Linked DNA regions of Homo sapiens. The gene in region 1 interacts genetically with each later gene. Each region holds a gene or a part of one and is shown in the gene's direction. Other genes may lie near its edges.

Evidence for each region.
Region 2: changes in SSRP1 (region 1) and ATR are lethal when combined (synthetic lethality), as found in Homo sapiens cells (one large-scale study listed by BioGRID).

Annotation. Positions count from the first base shown.
Region 1 is NC_000011.10:57,329,207-57,333,022, reverse strand, and holds part of SSRP1 (FACT complex subunit SSRP1), read left to right. Parts: coding exon 1-64; intron 65-167; coding exon 168-398; intron 399-536; coding exon 537-640; intron 641-742; coding exon 743-871; intron 872-1,133; coding exon 1,134-1,355; intron 1,356-2,095; coding exon 2,096-2,168; intron 2,169-2,281; coding exon of another isoform or gene 2,282-2,413; exon of another isoform or gene 2,414-2,593; coding exon 2,594-2,732; intron 2,733-2,884; coding exon 2,885-2,930; intron 2,931-3,816. UniProt on the Homo sapiens protein: Component of the FACT complex, a general chromatin factor that acts to reorganize nucleosomes. The FACT complex is involved in multiple processes that require DNA as a template such as mRNA elongation, DNA replication and DNA repair.
Region 2 is NC_000003.12:142,568,734-142,572,549, reverse strand, and holds part of ATR (serine/threonine-protein kinase ATR), read left to right. Parts: intron 1-3,816. UniProt on the Homo sapiens protein: Serine/threonine protein kinase which activates checkpoint signaling upon genotoxic stresses such as ionizing radiation (IR), ultraviolet light (UV), or DNA replication stalling, thereby acting as a DNA damage sensor.

The DNA of each region.
Region 1 (3,816 bases):
GTCTCTCATGGAGGTGCGCTTCTACGTCCCACCCACCCAGGAGGATGGTGTGGACCCTGTTGAGGTGAGGCTTCCCCTGGTTGCCTTGGCAGCAGATGGTGCTGAGCAGGCATTGGCTGGCCTGGGAGCAGGGCCTGCTGCTTGGCTACCAATATGTGCTTTTGCAGGCCTTTGCCCAGAATGTGTTGTCAAAGGCGGATGTAATCCAGGCCACGGGAGATGCCATCTGCATCTTCCGGGAGCTGCAGTGTCTGACTCCTCGTGGTCGTTATGACATTCGGATCTACCCCACCTTTCTGCACCTGCATGGCAAGACCTTTGACTACAAGATCCCCTACACCACAGTACTGCGTCTGTTTTTGTTACCCCACAAGGACCAGCGCCAGATGTTCTTTGTGGTAAGCAGAAACCCCTATGGCCGGATAATCCTGGTTTTTGCCTAAGTGTTAAGTAGATGGATCTCACTGGTGTGCAGAATTCTACGTTGGTTAATTGCAAGTTGTTGTAGAGTGTCAATTAGTACTCTTCCTTACTAGATCAGCCTGGATCCCCCAATCAAGCAAGGCCAAACTCGCTACCACTTCCTGATCCTCCTCTTCTCCAAGGACGAGGACATTTCGTTGACTCTGAACATGAACGAGTGAGTGTCTCCCTGGACTCGTTTCCTACCACTGTCCAGGCAGGAGACAGGTGTGCCATTAGAAGGCAGTAGTGTTGTGACCTCACCTTGCTTTCTTTGTAGGGAAGAAGTGGAGAAGCGCTTTGAGGGTCGGCTCACCAAGAACATGTCAGGATCCCTCTATGAGATGGTCAGCCGGGTCATGAAAGCACTGGTAAACCGCAAGATCACAGTGCCAGGCAACTTCCAAGGGTGAGAGTGTGGGCCTGGGATCCTGCCCTGCCTGGGTATGGGAAATGCCGTGTCTCCTTGGTAAACCCTTCCTGAGATGGGAATGCGGCCTCCTAGAGGCCTGGATGGGACCTTGTGTCACAATAGGTGCCAGCGCCTCTGTCAGAACAGCTCAGTGAGGTTTACTTAGTCGAGGACATGAGCACTCGTGTCGCTGCTGCTAGATACGCCCTTTGCCTCTGCTGAGGTTGGCACTAACCAGGCTCCCTGCACCCTCTGTCAGGCACTCAGGGGCCCAGTGCATTACCTGTTCCTACAAGGCAAGCTCAGGACTGCTCTACCCGCTGGAGCGGGGCTTCATCTACGTCCACAAGCCACCTGTGCACATCCGCTTCGATGAGATCTCCTTTGTCAACTTTGCTCGTGGTACCACTACTACTCGTTCCTTTGACTTTGAAATTGAGACCAAGCAGGGCACTCAGTATACCTTCAGCAGCATTGAGAGGTGAGAACCTCCACCTGTCACTTCCTGGGCATCCTGGTCCCGAGCCAGCTTTGTCTAGGAAGGCTGGCGTGGCCTGGGGCACTCTCCAACCCTAGAGCAGAATTTTTCTTTTGCTACATCAGGATTTGGTCCTTTTCCCTGGAGTGCTCAGACTTTAGAAACCTCTCCATTGCTTTCTTTCTGGTCATTAAAAAAACAAAACAAAACAAAACAAAAAAAACTTTTTCCGTATTCTGAAAGCTATATGTCTTCGCTACTGGTCTTTTTTCTCCTCCACTCCCCACCATGATGGAAATGCTATCTCTTTCTTTCCTGGAATGAGCTTTGTGCCTGAGAACATAGCGGCTAATGCTTATTGAGTGCTCACTGTGGACTAAACGTTTTATAAGCATCTTCACGTGTAATCCTCATATCAACCTTGTGAAGTATGAAAAAAGATGACCACGTCCCCTGCCCCACACTTACTCCCCTCTGAGCTTATTTTGTAAACAGATGCGCACCCCTCCCTGCCTTTCCTTTCCCAGAGTTCTTCAAAGCCATGCAGTTCTTTCAGGACTAATGTCTGGCTCTGGCTCTGCCTTACTGCTGTCCTCTGGGGGTTTCTAAGCTGTTGGGTTGGGTAGCATAGTCAAGAGCTCCAGGCTCCACAGTCTACCCCAGCTCATGGAATCAGAACATTGTTTAGTGTGCCCCTGTGTTGGCACTACCTCTCTGGTAACATGGTGCATGTCCCCTCACAGGGAGGAGTACGGGAAACTGTTTGATTTTGTCAACGCGAAAAAGCTCAACATCAAAAACCGAGGATTGAAAGAGGTACTTCTGTGTGGGGAGGATGAGACCCTCTCCTGGTCTTTCTATAGGGGAGAAAGGGGTGGAGATTTTTTCCGGCTTCTTTTTCACTCTTTCTTCTCTTCTTACCCTTATAGAAAAAAGAGGTGCGTGTGACCCTTTCCCCCTCCTGGTGCAGGTTTCCTCTGCATGACCTTAGACCAGTCTATGCAGCCCCTCAGGAGCCCCCAGTGGGGCTGGGAGAGGGAGGGGCTTGGGGCTTGGACTAACCCAGTTGGCAGGAAGTACTTGGGCATAGGCCCTGCACGTTGGCTGTGTGTGGACAATCCAGCCCCAGGTCTTCTGGGAGCTGCTGCTCTGACTTGACAGGCATGGGGGTGTGCTTTTGAGTGTGCAGGGATTCTGGCTCGAGGGTGAGTTGGCCCCACCGTGAACTCTTCCCTGGCTAGGGCATGAACCCAAGCTACGATGAATATGCTGACTCTGATGAGGACCAGCATGATGCCTACTTGGAGAGGATGAAGGAGGAAGGCAAGATCCGGGAGGAGAATGCCAATGACAGCAGCGATGACTCAGGAGAAGAAACCGGTGGGTTAGCCTCCGTGCTGAGCACGAGGATGGTCAGACGCTCCTCGCTGTGGCCCGGGCTGGACTCACCCTTGGGCCAGAGCTGGGTGCCTGGGTGAGGTGGGGGGATTTCCATTGGGGCAGAAGCTGATGCATCCTGTGCCCTTTTTCAGATGAGTCATTCAACCCAGGTGAAGAGGAGGAAGATGTGGCAGAGGAGTGAGTTTTGGTGGTACCTTGTGGGGATAAGATGGTGACCCATAAGCTTAAGGGACCAGAAGATTTCTGGACATTTCTCAGGTCCCAGCATTAGCTACTGACCCAGAATGGGAGAGTGACCTCCAATGAGGTGATATACGAAAATGTTTTGGAAATTGTCAAGGGCTTTGTAAGTGCAAGACATATTTTGAAGTCGGAAAAGTATAGTGGGATCTATGGCCATACCGCCCTGAATGTGCCAGTTGGGGCTGGTTCGTAGTTGGATGAGGAGAGAATGGGAATGAGCTGGTGCTTGCCACTTACTTGCTGGGGGTTGTCGAGTAAGTCATTGAATCTCAATTTCCTCATCAGTAGAAATGCAGTAGTACCCCTGCTAAATTGGTTAAGACTTTTTGTTAGCAGTGTCAGAAATGTGATTCACTCTCACTTTAAAAGGGAACATATAAAAGGGAATTTCATAAGTTCATATTACTGCGGAGTCTGGGGATTTAATTGGCTTCAGACACTACTGGATTCAGGCGCTCAAATCTATTTCTTCCGATTTCCTTAATTAAAAATAGGTTTACCCCATGGGGTGCCCAGTGACTCTCAGAAGCTCAGGGCAGGCTTAATCCTACTGGTTTAAAACAACACCAGAAGTGCCTCTTTTGGTGAACAGCATAGTGAACACAGTGGTTACCTGCCCCTTTCTAGCCTGAGTTATTAGAATGGGCTGGGGTCTGATGGGCCAGAAATAGGCCAAGTGCCCACCCTTAGAGCCTGTGGTTGGGGTAAGCCCTTCCTGAGTGGGGGCAAGGTGGTTCCCAACAGAAAATTGGGACTCTGCTCTCTTAATCCAGAAGGATTGTAAAAGAATGTCGGGCAGCAAAAAAAACACCCAACAGGA
Region 2 (3,816 bases), on another chromosome or scaffold:
CTGCCCACCTTGGACTCCCAAAGCACTGGGATTACAGGCATGAGCTACCATGCCCGACCAGTATCAGTTCTTTTATGGCATTTATTAGCTGTAAATGCTATTGATCCTATATGTAATCAATTAGGATTGGACTTTGTGGTTTGAATAATCAAAAAAAAAAAAAAAAAAAAAAAAAAAGTCAGGCCGGGCGTGGTGGCTCACGCCGATAATCCCAGCACTTTGGGAGACCGAGGCGGATGGATCATGAGGTCAGTAAATCGAAACCATCCTGGCTAACATGGTGCAACCCCGTCTCTACTAAAAATACAAAAAATTAGCCGGGCGTGGTGGCACGTGCCTGTAGTCCCAGCTACTCGGGAGGCTGAGGCAGGAGAATCACTTGAAGCTGCGAGGCGGAGGTTGCAGTGAGCCGAGATCACACCACTGCGCTCCAGCCTGGGCGACAGAGCGAGACTCCGTCTCAAAAGAAAAAAAAAAGAAAAAGGGCCGGGTGCGGTGGCTCACGCCTGTAATCTCAGCACTTTGGGAGGCTGAGGCGGGCGGATTACCTGAGGTCAGGAGTTCGAGCCAGCCTGGCCAACATGGTGAAACCCCGTCTCTACTAAAAATACAAAAATTAGCTGGGTGTGGTGGCACACGCCTGTAATCCTAGCTACTTGGGAGGCTGAGGCAGGAGAATTGCTTGAGCCCGGGTGGCGGAGGTTGCAGTGAGCCAAGATCGTGCCACTAACTGCACTTCACCCTGGCCGACAGAGCGAGACTCTGTATCAGAAAAAGAAAAAAATTCACTCTTTTTCTTTTACCACTATTTGAGATAATAAGTGGGGAAAATGTATGAACATTTTACAGTGCTATATAGAAATAAATTGTGACATATATGAAATATATGCTATTATTTATAAGTAACTGTCTTACTACACCCTAAGTTGTTTTGTCAGAAGTGATGGACTTTGCTAATCACTCACACATAACCCACTGTGAATCCTCTAGGTAGAGTTAATCATTCCCTGCTTTGGGTGTACATGATACTTGCTTTTGATTATTTATTTATTTATTTATTTATTTATTTATTTATTTATTTATTGAGACTGAGTCTCGCTCTGTCGCCCAGGCTGGAGTACAGTGGCGCGATCTCGACTCACTGCAATCTCCGCCTCCCAGATTCAAGCGATTCTCCTGCCTCAGCCTCCTGAGCAGCTGGGACTACAGGCGCCCGCCACCACACCCAGCTGATTTTTGTGTTTTCAGCAGAGATGGGGTTTCACCATGTTAGCCGGGATGGTTTAGATCTACTGACCTCATGATCCGCCTGCCTTAGCCTCCCAAAATGCTCGTATTACAGGCGTGAGCCACCATGCCCGGCCGCTTTTGATTATTTAAGTGCATTCCTCTCCTCTCCCCAGCAACTATTCTGAGTTCTTTGAAGCAGAGGATCTTGTTTTACTTGCCTTTTGAATTTATTAAATTATTTGCGTCTGTACCCATCCATTCTTTCTATGTTTATGAAAGAGTTACCCTCCTGTCCAAGGATTGTCTTTTTACTTATATCTGGTTCCAAGAAGAGGAGTCACATCTCAAGAATTGGTTGCTTAGGTCTTTCCATTATAAGGGAGAAACAAAACAAAGCCCTCTTGATCTCATACAGTTCTTTAGTTATCACCAACTCTACTTCTCTTCATTTCATGATCAAGCTTTGGAAAGAACCCGCTATTCTCAGTATTCACATTTCATTAGATTTTCAGCCCCTTGCAATCTGGCTTCTCTCTTTACTGCTACAGGAAAATTTTAAAAGTCCAAAAGGCATACAAATACCTAAACATAAGAACTAAAACTATGAAACTCTTAGAAGTGAACATAGAGGGGGCCGGGCATGGTGGCTCACACCTATAATCCCAGCACTTTGGGAGGCCAAGATGGGTGGATCACCTGAGGTCAGGAGTTCCAGACTAGCCTGACCAACATGGAGAAACCCTGTCTCTACTAAAAATATACAAAATTAGCCAGGCGTGGTGGTACATGCTTGTAATCGCAGCTACTCAGGAGGCTGAGGCAGGAGAATCGCTTGAACCCAGGAGGCGGAGGTTGCGGTGAGCTGAGATCGCGCCATTGCACTCCAGCCTGGGCAACAAGAGTGAAACTCTGTCTCAAAAAGTAAATAAATAAATAAAAATAAGGGAACATAGAGGGAAAACATTATGACACTGGATTTGGCAATGATTTCTTTGATATGACACAAAGCACAGGCAGCAAAATAAACAGATAAATTGGAATTCATCAAAATTAAAAACTTTGTGCATCAAAGGGCAGTATCAATAGAGTGAAAAGGCAACCCATGGAACTGGAGAAAATATTTGCAAATCATATGTCTGATAAGGAGTTTAATATCTAGAATATATTAAGAACTCCTACAGCTTAACAACAAATATAACCTGATGAAAAACAGAAAAAGAACTTGAATAGACATTTCTCCAAAGAAGATATACAAATGGACAAATAAGCACATGAGAAGATGCTCACAATTACTAATCATTAGGGAGATGCAAATCAAAACCACAGGATACTGTTTCACACCCATTATGATAGCTATTAATAAAAAAACAGTTGGGGCTGGGCATGTTGGCTGATGCCTGTAATCCCAGCACTTTGGGAGGCTGAGGCAGGCGGATCACGAGGTCAGGAGATTGAGACCATCCTGGCCAACATGGTAAAACCCCATCTCTACTAAAATACAAAAAATTAGCCAGGCATGGTGGTGCATGCCTGTAGTACCAGCTACTTGAGAGGCTGAGGCAGGAGAATTGCTTGAACCCGGGAGACAGAGGTTGCAGTGAGTTGAGATCATGCCACTGCACTCCAGCCTGGTGACAGAGCAAGACTCTGTCTCAAAAAAAACCAAAAAACAAAAAAAATCCCACAAAAAAAAAACACAGTTGGGCATGGTGACTCATGCCTACAATCCCAGCACTTTGGGAGGTCAAAGCAGGCAGATCGCTTGAGCCCAGGAGATTGAGACCAGCCTGGGCAACGTGGTGAAACCCTGTCTCTACAAAAAATACAAAAAATTAGCTGGGTGTGGTGACATGCACCTGTGGTGCCAGCTACTCAGGAGGCTGAGGTGGGAGGATCTCCTGAGGCTGGGAGGTTGAGGCTGCAGTGAGTTATGGGTGCACCACTGCACAGTAACCTGGGCAACAGGGTTAGACCCTGTCGCCAAAAGGGGAAAATAAAATAATAATAAAAAAACACCCAGAAAATAACGTGTGTTGGTGAAGATGTGGAGAAATTGGAACCCTTGTCCACTGCAGGTGGGAGTGTACAATGGTACAGCCACTGTGGAAAAGGGTATTAGCGTTCCACCAAAAATTTAGTTTTTATGTGCTTCAGAAGGGAGGAAGTGAATGCTAATTGGTCCATAGGCAGTCATGGGTGGGCCTGGAAAAAGCACCCTAAGTTCTCGCTGTGGTCCGTGTAACTGGCAGCCAGGCTTCCAGGCTTCAAGCTGTTCCTGGCTTGAAGGTGGGTCTTCACTGGGGACCCACCCCTTTCCTCCCAGGAGCCTACTTCCTGCTGCCATCAACCTGCCACCCACTACACCGAGGCTGTTCGTGCCGAGGGGCGCCTGCAGGCCCATATTGAGCTGCCCTCAGCCTACCGCTTGGCCTGCCCAAAGTCCAGAGGGAGATGAGGCAGCAGGGGGCTGGTGTGTCAGTGCCGTCCTGAGCACATGCACACGCGGCCTGGTCCTGACAACACCTGGGCTCCCCCACAACTTTGCTCCGAAATTGGTGTGGGTGCCGGGAGCGGGGAGAGGCCAGG